Regions from separate parts of the Homo sapiens genome. Here region 2 is linked to region 1. The links come from fine-mapping of genetic effects on gene expression. A gene starts in region 1. The other region holds a variant in brackets. All regions are shown on one strand. Distances are between the middles of the regions.

Region 1 (5,362 bases):
GGTTGGATTGAACAGCCAGAGGGCCCCAGAGTTCCTTGCATCTAATTTCACCCCCACCCCACCCTCCAGGGTTAGGGGGAGCAGGAAGCCCAGATAATCAGAGGGACAGAAACACCAGCTGCTCCCCCTCATCCCCTTCACCCTCCTGCCCCCTCTCCCACTTTTCCCTTCCTCTTTCCCCACAGCCCCCCAGCCCCTCAGCCCTCCCAGCCCACTTCTGCCTGTTTTAAACGAGTTTCTCAACTCCAGTCAGACCAGGTCTTGCTGGTGTATCCAGGGACAGGGTATGGAAAGAGGGGCTCACGCTTAACTCCAGCCCCCACCCACACCCCCATCCCACCCAACCACAGGCCCCACTTGCTAAGGGCAAATGAACGAAGCGCCAACCTTCCTTTCGGAGTAATCCTGCCTGGGAAGGAGAGATTTTTAGTGACATGTTCAGTGGGTTGCTTGCTAGAATTTTTTTAAAAAAACAACAATTTAAAATCTTATTTAAGTTCCACCAGTGCCTCCCTCCCTCCTTCCTCTACTCCCACCCCTCCCATGTCCCCCCATTCCTCAAATCCATTTTAAAGAGAAGCAGACTGACTTTGGAAAGGGAGGCGCTGGGGTTTGAACCTCCCCGCTGCTAATCTCCCCTGGGCCCCTCCCCGGGGAATCCTCTCTGCCAATCCTGCGAGGGTCTAGGCCCCTTTAGGAAGCCTCCGCTCTCTTTTTCCCCAACAGACCTGTCTTCACCCTTGGGCTTTGAAAGCCAGACAAAGCAGCTGCCCCTCTCCCTGCCAAAGAGGAGTCATCCCCCAAAAAGACAGAGGGGGAGCCCCAAGCCCAAGTCTTTCCTCCCAGCAGCGTTTCCCCCCAACTCCTTAATTTTATTCTCCGCTAGATTTTAACGTCCAGCCTTCCCTCAGCTGAGTGGGGAGGGCATCCCTGCAAAAGGGAACAGAAGAGGCCAAGTCCCCCCAAGCCACGGCCCGGGGTTCAAGGCTAGAGCTGCTGGGGAGGGGCTGCCTGTTTTACTCACCCACCAGCTTCCGCCTCCCCCATCCTGGGCGCCCCTCCTCCAGCTTAGCTGTCAGCTGTCCATCACCTCTCCCCCACTTTCTCATTTGTGCTTTTTTCTCTCGTAATAGAAAAGTGGGGAGCCGCTGGGGAGCCACCCCATTCATCCCCGTATTTCCCCCTCTCATAACTTCTCCCCATCCCAGGAGGAGTTCTCAGGCCTGGGGTGGGGCCCCGGGTGGGTGCGGGGGCGATTCAACCTGTGTGCTGCGAAGGACGAGACTTCCTCTTGAACAGTGTGCTGTTGTAAACATATTTGAAAACTATTACCAATAAAGTTTTGTTTAAAAAAAAAGTGTCGCTGGTGTTCTCGACTTCGATCACCCACCCACACACCCCCAGGGGGTTGGAAAGGGAATTTCGGACCCCAGCGTGCAGGCCGATCAGGTCCTGGCTTGAAGTCCTTGTAACCAGGGTTTAGCTGAAATTCCGGCACTCCTTCGGCCCCGCAGGAGAAACGAGCGTCAAACTGCCCTTTGACCCCAGATTCGGGGTCCCCAAATCTGCGGCGCGCCCCCTCGGCGTCCAGCCCGGGACCGAGAGGGCGCTCTAGGGAGGCGCTGGGGCTGGCGCGCCAGGAGGCCGAGCGGCGGCGGGGGCGGCCCTGGCAGGGGGAGTAGAAGGGGGAGAGGGTGCGCGCCCCCCTTCCCGCATCCTCAGCGCCGGGCCAGGCGCGCCTGAGGGACGCGGGGGCGGCGGCAGCAGGAGGGTCCCCGCAGCACCCTGCGAGCGCGGCAGCCCCGGCCCGCGGGCGGCGAGTTCCCGGTAAGTGCGGTCCCGAGAGCGGAGCGCGCTGGAGAGGCGTGGAGAGGGGGGCTGGGCGCCGGGGACGTCTGGGTCCCGCGCCCAATGGCTGGAGGGCGGCCGAGCGCCGCCCGCCCGCCCTGCCCGCCCCCTCTCCACTCCCCCCGGCACTCCCCTCCCCCTCCCCCGCCCGCCGCTTTCCCCCGCCCCCGCCCCGGGCCAACTCCGCGGCGCCTCCTTAAAAAGCGCGCGGGAGTTGTAAGGGGGGGCCGGAGCGAGCCGGAGTGAGCGAGAGCGCAGGGTAAAGGGGGCGGGCGGGGGGCCCGGGCTCCACCTTAAAAGCGGGCGCGTGGGGGTGGGAGGGAGGAAGGCGGGCGGCGGGGAGGAGGGAGGGAGGGAAGGAAGGGGGGCCGGAGTGTCCCGGGCGCAGGGCGCGCGTGCGGCGGCGGCGGCGGCGGGGAGGGGCCGGCCGCGCCGCGCTCCCCTCCTCCCCCTCGCATCCCCGGCCCCGCGCGCGCCCAGCAGAAGCGGGTCTGTGTGTGCGTGCGTGCGAGTGAGTGAGTGTGTGCATATTTTTTTCTCTCTTTTCTTTCTCTCTCACTGTTTTTTCCTCTCTCTCTCTCTCCCTCTCTCTCTCTTTTTTTTTTTTTTTTTTTTGCAAAGAAACAGCAGCGCCGCCGCCGCTCCGCCGAGGCGCTGCGCCCCCCGGGGGGGGAGGCGGAGGAGGCGGGCAGCGGCGGAGGGAGGGGAGCCGGGGAGGGGGGCGCCGCGCTGGGAGGGAGGCAGCGCGCACGGTGCAGCCGGGCCGGGCGGGAGGCATGGCGGGGCCCCCGGCCCTACCCCCGCCGGAGACGGCGGCGGCCGCCACCACGGCGGCCGCCGCCTCGTCGTCCGCCGCTTCCCCGCACTACCAAGAGTGGATCCTGGACACCATCGACTCGCTGCGCTCGCGCAAGGCGCGGCCGGACCTGGAGCGCATCTGCCGGATGGTGCGGCGGCGGCACGGCCCGGAGCCGGAGCGCACGCGCGCCGAGCTCGAGAAACTGATCCAGCAGCGCGCCGTGCTCCGGGTCAGCTACAAGGGGAGCATCTCGTACCGCAACGCGGCGCGCGTCCAGCCGCCCCGGCGCGGAGCCACCCCGCCGGCCCCGCCGGCGCCGCCACAGCAGCAGCAGCCGCCGCCGCCGCAGCCACAGCCGCCGCCGGAGGGGGGCGCGGTGCGGGCCGGCGGCGCGGCGCGGCCCGTGAGCCTGCGGGAAGTCGTGCGCTACCTCGGGGGCAGCGGCGGCGCCGGCGGTCGCCTAACCCGCGGCCGCGTGCAGGGGCTGCTGGAGGAGGAGGCGGCGGCTCGAGGCCGTCTGGAGCGCACCCGTCTCGGAGCGCTTGCGCTGCCCCGCGGGGACAGGCCCGGACGGGCGCCGCCGGCCGCCAGCGCCCGCCCGTCTCGCAGCAAGGTGAGCGCGCCGGGGAGCGGGGGCGCCGCGCGGTGGGCAGGTGCGGGCGAAGTTGGTGGCGGGGGCGCGAGTCCCGGGAGGAACTGGGTGGCGGGTGGCTGGGGCTTTGCGCGCGTTTCCTGCGGGCTCGGTGCGTGGTGACCTTGGCAAGTGATTGAATCTCCCGGAGCCTCAGTTTCCTCCGCTGTAAACGCGGTTTAATAACAGTAGCGACCCCTTGGGGTTGTTGAGCGAGTTTAGTAAGATTTGGTTGTCGAGGGCTTTAGTTAACACAGAGCCTGGCACGGAGTGAATGCGTAAAAGTTAGTCCGTATTGTTCTTAAAGGTGGAATCGGTTCCTCCTCCCCACCGCCCGGACGCCACAGTCAGGGTCTGGGATTAGAACAGCTACTAATTTTGCATGCTTCTCTCCTCGGCTCCAGAGAGGTGGAGAAGAGCGAGTACTTGAGAAAGAAGAGGAAGAAGATGATGATGAAGATGAAGATGAAGAAGATGATGTGTCAGAGGGCTCTGAAGTGCCCGAGAGTGACCGTCCTGCAGGTGCCCAGCACCACCAGCTTAACGGCGAGCGGGGACCTCAGAGTGCCAAGGAGAGGGTCAAGGAGTGGACCCCCTGCGGACCGCACCAGGGCCAGGATGAAGGGCGGGGGCCAGCCCCGGGCAGCGGCACCCGCCAGGTGTTCTCCATGGCAGCCATGAACAAGGAAGGGGGAACAGGTAAGGATCCCTCTGGGTGGGGAAGAGTGCTAGGTGGAGAGGAACTCAGCCCGAAGACAAAGCCAAAGACAGGTGTTTTTTTCCTTCCCAGCTTCTGTTGCCACCGGGCCAGACTCCCCGTCCCCCGTGCCTTTGCCCCCAGGCAAACCAGCCCTACCTGGGGCCGACGGGACCCCCTTTGGCTGTCCGTAAGTTGGGGTATTGGAGACATGGGGGTGCTGCTCAGGTGTGTGGTACAGCCAGAGAGACATCCGTGTTCACTGGTGTCTGTTTGTTTTGATGCAGTCCCGGGCGCAAAGAGAAGCCATCTGATCCCGTCGAGTGGACCGTGATGGATGTCGTCGAATATTTTACTGAGGCTGGATTCCCGGAGCAGGCGACAGCTTTCCAAGAGCAGGTGAGTTTCCAGCCCAGGACTACACACTGACAGACACAGAGGGCCTCCCTGGGATGTGCCCTGATCCCGGCTCTCTCTGTTCCTGTCCCACCCAGGAAATTGATGGCAAATCTTTGCTGCTCATGCAGCGCACAGATGTGCTCACCGGCCTGTCCATCCGCCTCGGGCCAGCCCTGAAAATCTACGAGCACCACATCAAGGTGCTTCAGCAAGGCCACTTTGAGGATGATGACCCCGATGGCTTCTTAGGCTGAGCGCCCAGCCTCACCCCTGCCCCAGCCCATTCCGGCCCCCATCTCACCCAAGATCCCCCAGAGTCCAGGAGCTGGACGGGGACACCCTCAGCCCTCATAACAGATTCCAAGGAGAGGGCACCCTCTTGTCCTTATCTTTGCCCCTTGTGTCTGTCTCACACACATCTGCTCCTCAGCACGTCGGTGTGGGGAGGGGATTGCTCCTTAAACCCCAGGTGGCTGACCCTCCCCACCCAGTCCAGGACATTTTAGGAAAAAAAAAATGAAATGTGGGGGGCTTCTCATCTCCCCAAGATCCTCTTCCGTTCAGCCAGATGTTTCCTGTATAAATGTTTGGATCTGCCTGTTTATTTTGGTGGGTGGTCTTTCCTCCCTCCCCTACCACCCATGCCCCCCTTCTCAGTCTGCCCCTGGCCTCCAGCCCCTAGGGGACTAGCTGGGTTGGGGTTCCTCGGGCCTTTTCTCTCCTCCCTCTTTTCTTTCTGTTGATTGTCGCTCCAGCTGGCTGTATTGCTTTTTAATATTGCACCGAAGGTTTTTTAAATAAAATTTTAAAAAAAGAAAAAGGGAAAAAAAAGCCACGGAGTCCATTTTATGAATGGGGTGGGGAGAGGGCACTAAAGAGCCTCCTAAGAGAGCCTCAGGTTAGGACAGAATTGTTTGGGGAGGGAGAAAAACAGAAACAATGAATTATAGCTGCCTCACAGCCATGTATAACAATAATTGCTCCAGGA
Region 2 (5,362 bases), 150 kb before region 1:
AGTGAATGAGAAGTCCTCAAAGCAGTGCCTGGACCACAGTACAAGTTATTCCCATAACCAATATTATTTCTGAGCCACCCCATCCCTCAGCAACTAGAATATAAGCCCTCCTGAAAGCTAACTCTGCAGGGATGGTATTGGCTTTATTTATTTATTTATTTAAGAGTTGAGGTCTTGGCCGGGCGTAGTGGCTCATGCCTGTAATCCCAACACTTTGGGAGGCCAAGGTGGGCAGATCACTGAGGTCAGGAGTTTGAGACCGCCTGGCCAACATGGTGAAACCCTGTCTCTACTAAAAATACAAAAACTTAGCTGGGCGTGGTGGCGTGTACCTGTAATCCCAGCTACTCGGGAGGCTAAGGCAGGAAAATCGCTTGAACCCAGGAGGCAGAGGTTGCAGTGAGCTGAGATCACACCACTGGACTCCAGCCTGGATGACAGAGTGAAACTCCATCTCAGGGGGAAAAAAAAAAGAATTTGCCTTGAAGGCTGGGTGCAGTGGCTCACGCCTGTAATCCCAACACTTTGGGAGGCCGAGGTGGGCAGATCTCCTGAGGTCAAGAGTTCAAGACCAGTCTGGTCAACATGGTGAAACTCCACCTCTACTAAAAATACAAAAATTAGCCGGGCATGGTGGTGTGCACCTGTAATCCCAGCTACTCATGAGGCTGAGACAGGAGAATTGCTTGAACCTGGGAGGCAGAGGTTGTAGTGAACCGAGATCGTGCCATTGCACTCCATCCTGGGCAACAAGAGCAAAACTTCATCTCAAAAAAAAAAAAGGAATAATTTGCCGTGAGTCTGTAGCATAGTGCTTAGTCCTTAGCGGGCACTCAATATACTTCATCCAGATTCAGAGGCAGGGAGAATTGTGGGAGACACAGTTTGTCAAATTCACACCTATCTCTTTCCTTTGCTAACACAGGGCTCCTTAAGTGTCAGTGTGCCCTGCCTAATCCTTGCCCTCCAGCCCCCCTTGCTTCTATTTTATTTATTTATGTGTTTATGTATTTTTTTTGTCTTCCAGCCCCTCTTCCAGCTCCCCTTGCCATTATTCCAGCCTTCAAGTCCCGCTTGCTTCTATTTTATTTATTTATTTATTTATTTATTTATTTTTGGGGACAGAGTCTCACTCTGTTACCCAGGCTGGAGGACAGTGGTGCAATCTCAGCTCACTGCAACCTCCGCCTCCCAGGTTCAAGCTACTCTCCTACCTCAGCCTCCCGAGTAGCTGGGATTACAGGCACCCACCACCATGCCCGGCTAATTTTTTGTATTTTTAGTAGAGACGGGGTTTCGTCATGTTGGCCAGGCTGATCTCAAACTCCTGACCTCAAGTGATCCGCCTACCTCAGCCTCCCAACTCCCTTCCTTCTAGAGATGGCTGTGTGACACTCTTCCGGCCAATAAGACTCCAGCAGAAGTCTTCTGGGTGGTTCCAGGAAGAATGAGCATGTTATTATCCAAGACTCAGTGGCTTCATCTATAAAATGGGGCTAAAAATTGCAACTTGCCTCAGGTCTCGAACTCCTGACCTCAAGTGATCCGCCCGCCTCAGCCTCCCAAAGTGCTGGGATTACGGGCGTGAGCCACTGCGCCCAGCCAATACGACCAGTGTCTTGGTAAGAAGAGAATAGACACAAGTACACGAGGGAGAGTCCATGTGATGGAGGAGGCAGAGACTGGATGATGCAGAGATTGGAGAGATGCATCATCTACAAGCCAAGGAGCACCCAGCATTGCTGGCCACCACCAATGCCCGCTGGCCAGGCAGGGGCAAGGAAGGAGTCTCCCTTGCAAGTTTCAGAGGGAACATGGTCCTGTCAACACCTTGATTCCAGGCTTCTGGCCTCCAGGTGTGGAAGAGAATAAATCTCTGTTGCTTTAAGCCACCCAATGGGTAGCACTTCCTTACAGCAGCCTGGGAGACTAACAAGGAGGGTTGAAAGCAGCAAGATTTCTTGCAAAGGCTCCTTCGGACTTCCAGGCTGTGTGACCTGCGGCAAGTCATTTACCCACTTTGGCATTTTTTTTTTTTTTTTTTTAGATGATGTCTCGCTCTGTCACCAGGCTGAAGTGCAGTGGCGCGATCTCGGCTCACTGCAACCTCCGACTACCTGGTTCAAGCGATTCTCCTGCCTCAGCCTCCCGAGTAGCTGGGATTACAGGCACACAACACCACACCCAGCTAATTTTTTATTTGTAGTAGAGACGGGGTTTCACCATGTTGGCCAGGATGGTCTCGATCTCCTGACCTGGTGATCCACCCACCTTGGCCTCCCAAAGTGCTGGGATTACAGGCATGAGCCACTGCGCCCGGCCTTTTTTTTTTTTTTTTTTT[A/TA]AGAGACAAGGCCTCATTCCGTCACCCAGGCTAACAATCTCCCAGGCTCAAGGAATCCTCCTGCCTCAGCCTCTGGAGTAGCTGAGACTACAGGTGTGTGCCACCACATCCAGCTAATTTTTTGTTATTTTTTAAGAGATTGGGTCTCGCTATGTTGCCCAAGCTGGTCTTGAAGCAATCCTCAAGCAATCCTCCCACTTTGGCCTGCTGAAATGGTGGGATTACAGGCATGAGCCACCATGCCCTGCCCCAGTCTGGCCTTTGTGTGTTTAGCTGGCTCAGAATACAAAGATGGGCCAGCTGTGGTGGCTTACGCCTATAATCTTAGCACTTTGGGGGGCCAAGGCAGGCGGATCACTTGAGGTCAGGAGTTCAAGACCAGCCTGGCCAACATGGTGAAACCCCGTCTCTACTAAAAATACAAAAATTAGCCAGGCATGGTGACAGGCACTTGTAATCTCATATACTCAGGAGGCTGAGGCAGGAGAATTGCCGGAAAGGCAGAGGTTGCAGTGAACCAACATCTCACCACTGCACTCCAGCCTGTACGACAGAGCAAGACTCTGTCTCAAAACAAACAACAATCCAAAAAAAAAAAAACAAAAACCAACAAAGACGAACAAAAAGAGTCCTTCCTGCCTTTCCAAATCTCTCCCAGGCAGAGTTAACACATCCCAGGTGCTCTTACACAGGGTTGAGTAGTTCCTGTGGATTTCAGTTGAGTGATACCTGCCTTGACTCCCCTGCTACGCTAGACCCTATCTCTGAGGACAAGAAATGGGCCTGTTCATCAGCGCAGCTGAGAAAGACCAAACCACCTTCTGTTCTCTTCTTTTCTTTTTTTTTTTTTGAGACGGAGTTTTGCTCTTGTTTCCCAGGCCGGAGTACAATGGCGCGATCTTGATTCACCACAACCTCTGCCTCCTGGGTTCAAGCGATTCTCCTGCCTCAGCCTCCTGAGTAGCTGGGATTACAGGCATGTGCCACCACGCCCGGCTAATTTTGTATTTTTAGTAGAAACAGGGTTTCTCCATGGTGGTCAGGCTGGTCTGAAACTCCTGACCTCTGGTGATCCGCCTGCCTGGCCTCCCAAAGTGCTAGGATTACAGGTGTGCGCCACCGTGCCCGGCCTTGAAGACCAAACCACCTTCTGGATAAAGCCAAGAGATGTAAACCTGCCAGGGTCTCTGGGCACTTGGAAACGCCCATCTGTTTGGAAGTGAGAGAATTAACACATTGGATGCATAAGCTGAATGTCAATGAAGACCCCAGGGCTGGTATAGAAACTGCGTGGGTTCAAATCCCAGCCCTGGGGTCAGCAGTAGCTCATGCCTGTAATCCCAGGACTTTAGGAGACTGAAGCGGGCAAGTCACTTGGGGTCAGGAGTTCAAGACCAGCCTGGCCAACATGGTGAAACCCCGTTTCTACTAAAAATACAAAAATCATTTGGGAGGCCGAGGTGGGCAGATCACAAGGTCACGAGATTGAGACCATCCTGGCCAACATGGTGAAACCCCCGTCTCTACTAAAATACAAAAAATTAGTCGGGTGTGGTGGCATGCGCCTATAGTCCCAGCTACTTGGGAAGCTGAGGCAGGAGAATTGCTTGAACCCAGGAGGCGGAGGTTGCAGTGGGCCAAGATCGCGCCACTGCACTCCAGCCTGGTGACAGAGCAAAACTCCATCTCAAAAAAAAAAAAAAAGAAAAAAAGCCAGGCGTGGTGGTTCATGCCTGTAATCTCAGCATTTTGGGAGCCAAGGCGGGCAGATCTCCTGAGGTTGGGAGTTCGAGACCAGGCTGACCAACATGGAGAAACCCTGTCTCTACTAAAAATATAAAAAATTAGCTGGGCATGTTGGCGCATGCCTGTAATCCCAGCTACTCGGGAGGCTGAGGCAGGAGAATCACAGGAACCTGGGAGGCGGAGGTTGCAGTGAGCCGAGATCGCGCCACTGCACTCCAGCCTGGGCAACAAGAGTGAAACTCTGACTCAAAACAAAAGAAAACAAACAAACAAAAAATCAGCCAGGCATGGTGGTGCACACCTGTAATCCCAGCTACTTGAGAGGCTGGGGCACGAGAATCGCTTGAACCCGGGAGGTGGAGGTTGCAGTGAGCTGAGATAGCACCACTGCACTCCAGCCTGGGTGACAGGGCAAGACTCCGTCTCAAACAACAAAAAAAACCTACAAATCCCAGCCCTGCCTGGCATTGACTGAGTCACCTTAGGTAAGTGGTTTTGCTGGTCTGTGCCTCTGTTTCTCTGGCTATAATATAGGTACAATGACAGTAGGGTCATTTCAAGGATTAAATGAGAAAAATGCCTGTTGGATACTCAGAGGTCAGGTACATACAGTAAGTGCTTAATGAGTGCTGGTCCCATGCATGAATGGAAGCACTGGGTGAGCATGTGCTTAAGGAAGAAGTGCAGGAGGCCGGATGCAGTGGCTCACGCCTGTAATCCCAGCACTTTAGGAGGTGGAGGTGGGAGGATCGCTTGAGGCTAGGGGTTCGAGACCACATCTTTACAAAAAATTTAAAATTAGGCCAGGCACAGTTGCTGACACCTGTAATCCCAACACTTTGGGAAGCTGAGGCAGGCAGATCACTTGAGGCCAGGAGTTCGAGACCAGCCTGGCCAACGTGGCAAAACCCCATCTCTACTAAAAATACAAAAATTAGCCATGTGGGGTGGTGCATACCTGTAATCCCAGCTACTTGGGAGGCTAAGCAGGAGAATCACTTGAACCCGGGAGATGGAGGTAACAGTGAGGCAAGATCACACCACTGTACTCACTGCCTGGGCGACACACTGCCTGGGCGACAGAGTGAGTGAGACTCCATTTCAAAAAAAAAAAAAATTAGCTGAGCACAGTGGCACGCACCTGTAGTTCCAGCTGCTGTGGAGGCTAAGGCAGGAGACTCATTTAAGCCCAGGAGGTTGAGGCTGCAGTAAGCTATGATTGCACCACTTCACTCCCTTCTGGGCAACAAAATGACACGCTGTCTCTAAAATAAA

Which allele goes with the higher level. Positions count from the first base shown, and alleles are read on the strand shown. Sizes are in standard deviations (SD) of each study's normalised expression.
As copies of A replace TA in region 2, the expression in monocytes of the gene that starts at base 2,294 in region 1 goes down (large effect, 0.80 SD a copy in Quach 2016).

Evidence for each region.
Region 2: its variant is fine-mapped to the expression of SAMD1 in monocytes (Quach 2016, PIP 0.95).

Annotation. Positions count from the first base shown.
Region 1 is chr19:14,087,683-14,093,044 of GRCh38, reverse strand. SAMD1 (sterile alpha motif domain containing 1) reads left to right here and starts at 2,294. Exons shown (of 5, transcript NM_138352.3): 1 at 2,294-3,260; 2 at 3,683-3,977; 3 at 4,069-4,165; 4 at 4,263-4,374; 5 at 4,470-5,194. The coding sequence starts at 2,625. The coding sequence ends at 4,628. PRKACA (protein kinase cAMP-activated catalytic subunit alpha) reads left to right here. Exons shown (of 10, transcript NM_002730.4): 10 at 1-1,357. RefSeq lists silencers at 1,559-1,888, 1,939-1,988, 2,129-2,348, 2,679-2,938, 3,239-3,288 and an enhancer at 3,933-4,442.
Region 2 is chr19:14,240,036-14,245,397 of GRCh38, reverse strand. No RefSeq gene overlaps it. Among named protein-coding and RNA genes, the nearest start is that of ADGRL1, 37 kb to the right of the region's middle. The variant A/TA (reference allele first, on the strand shown) is at 2,342.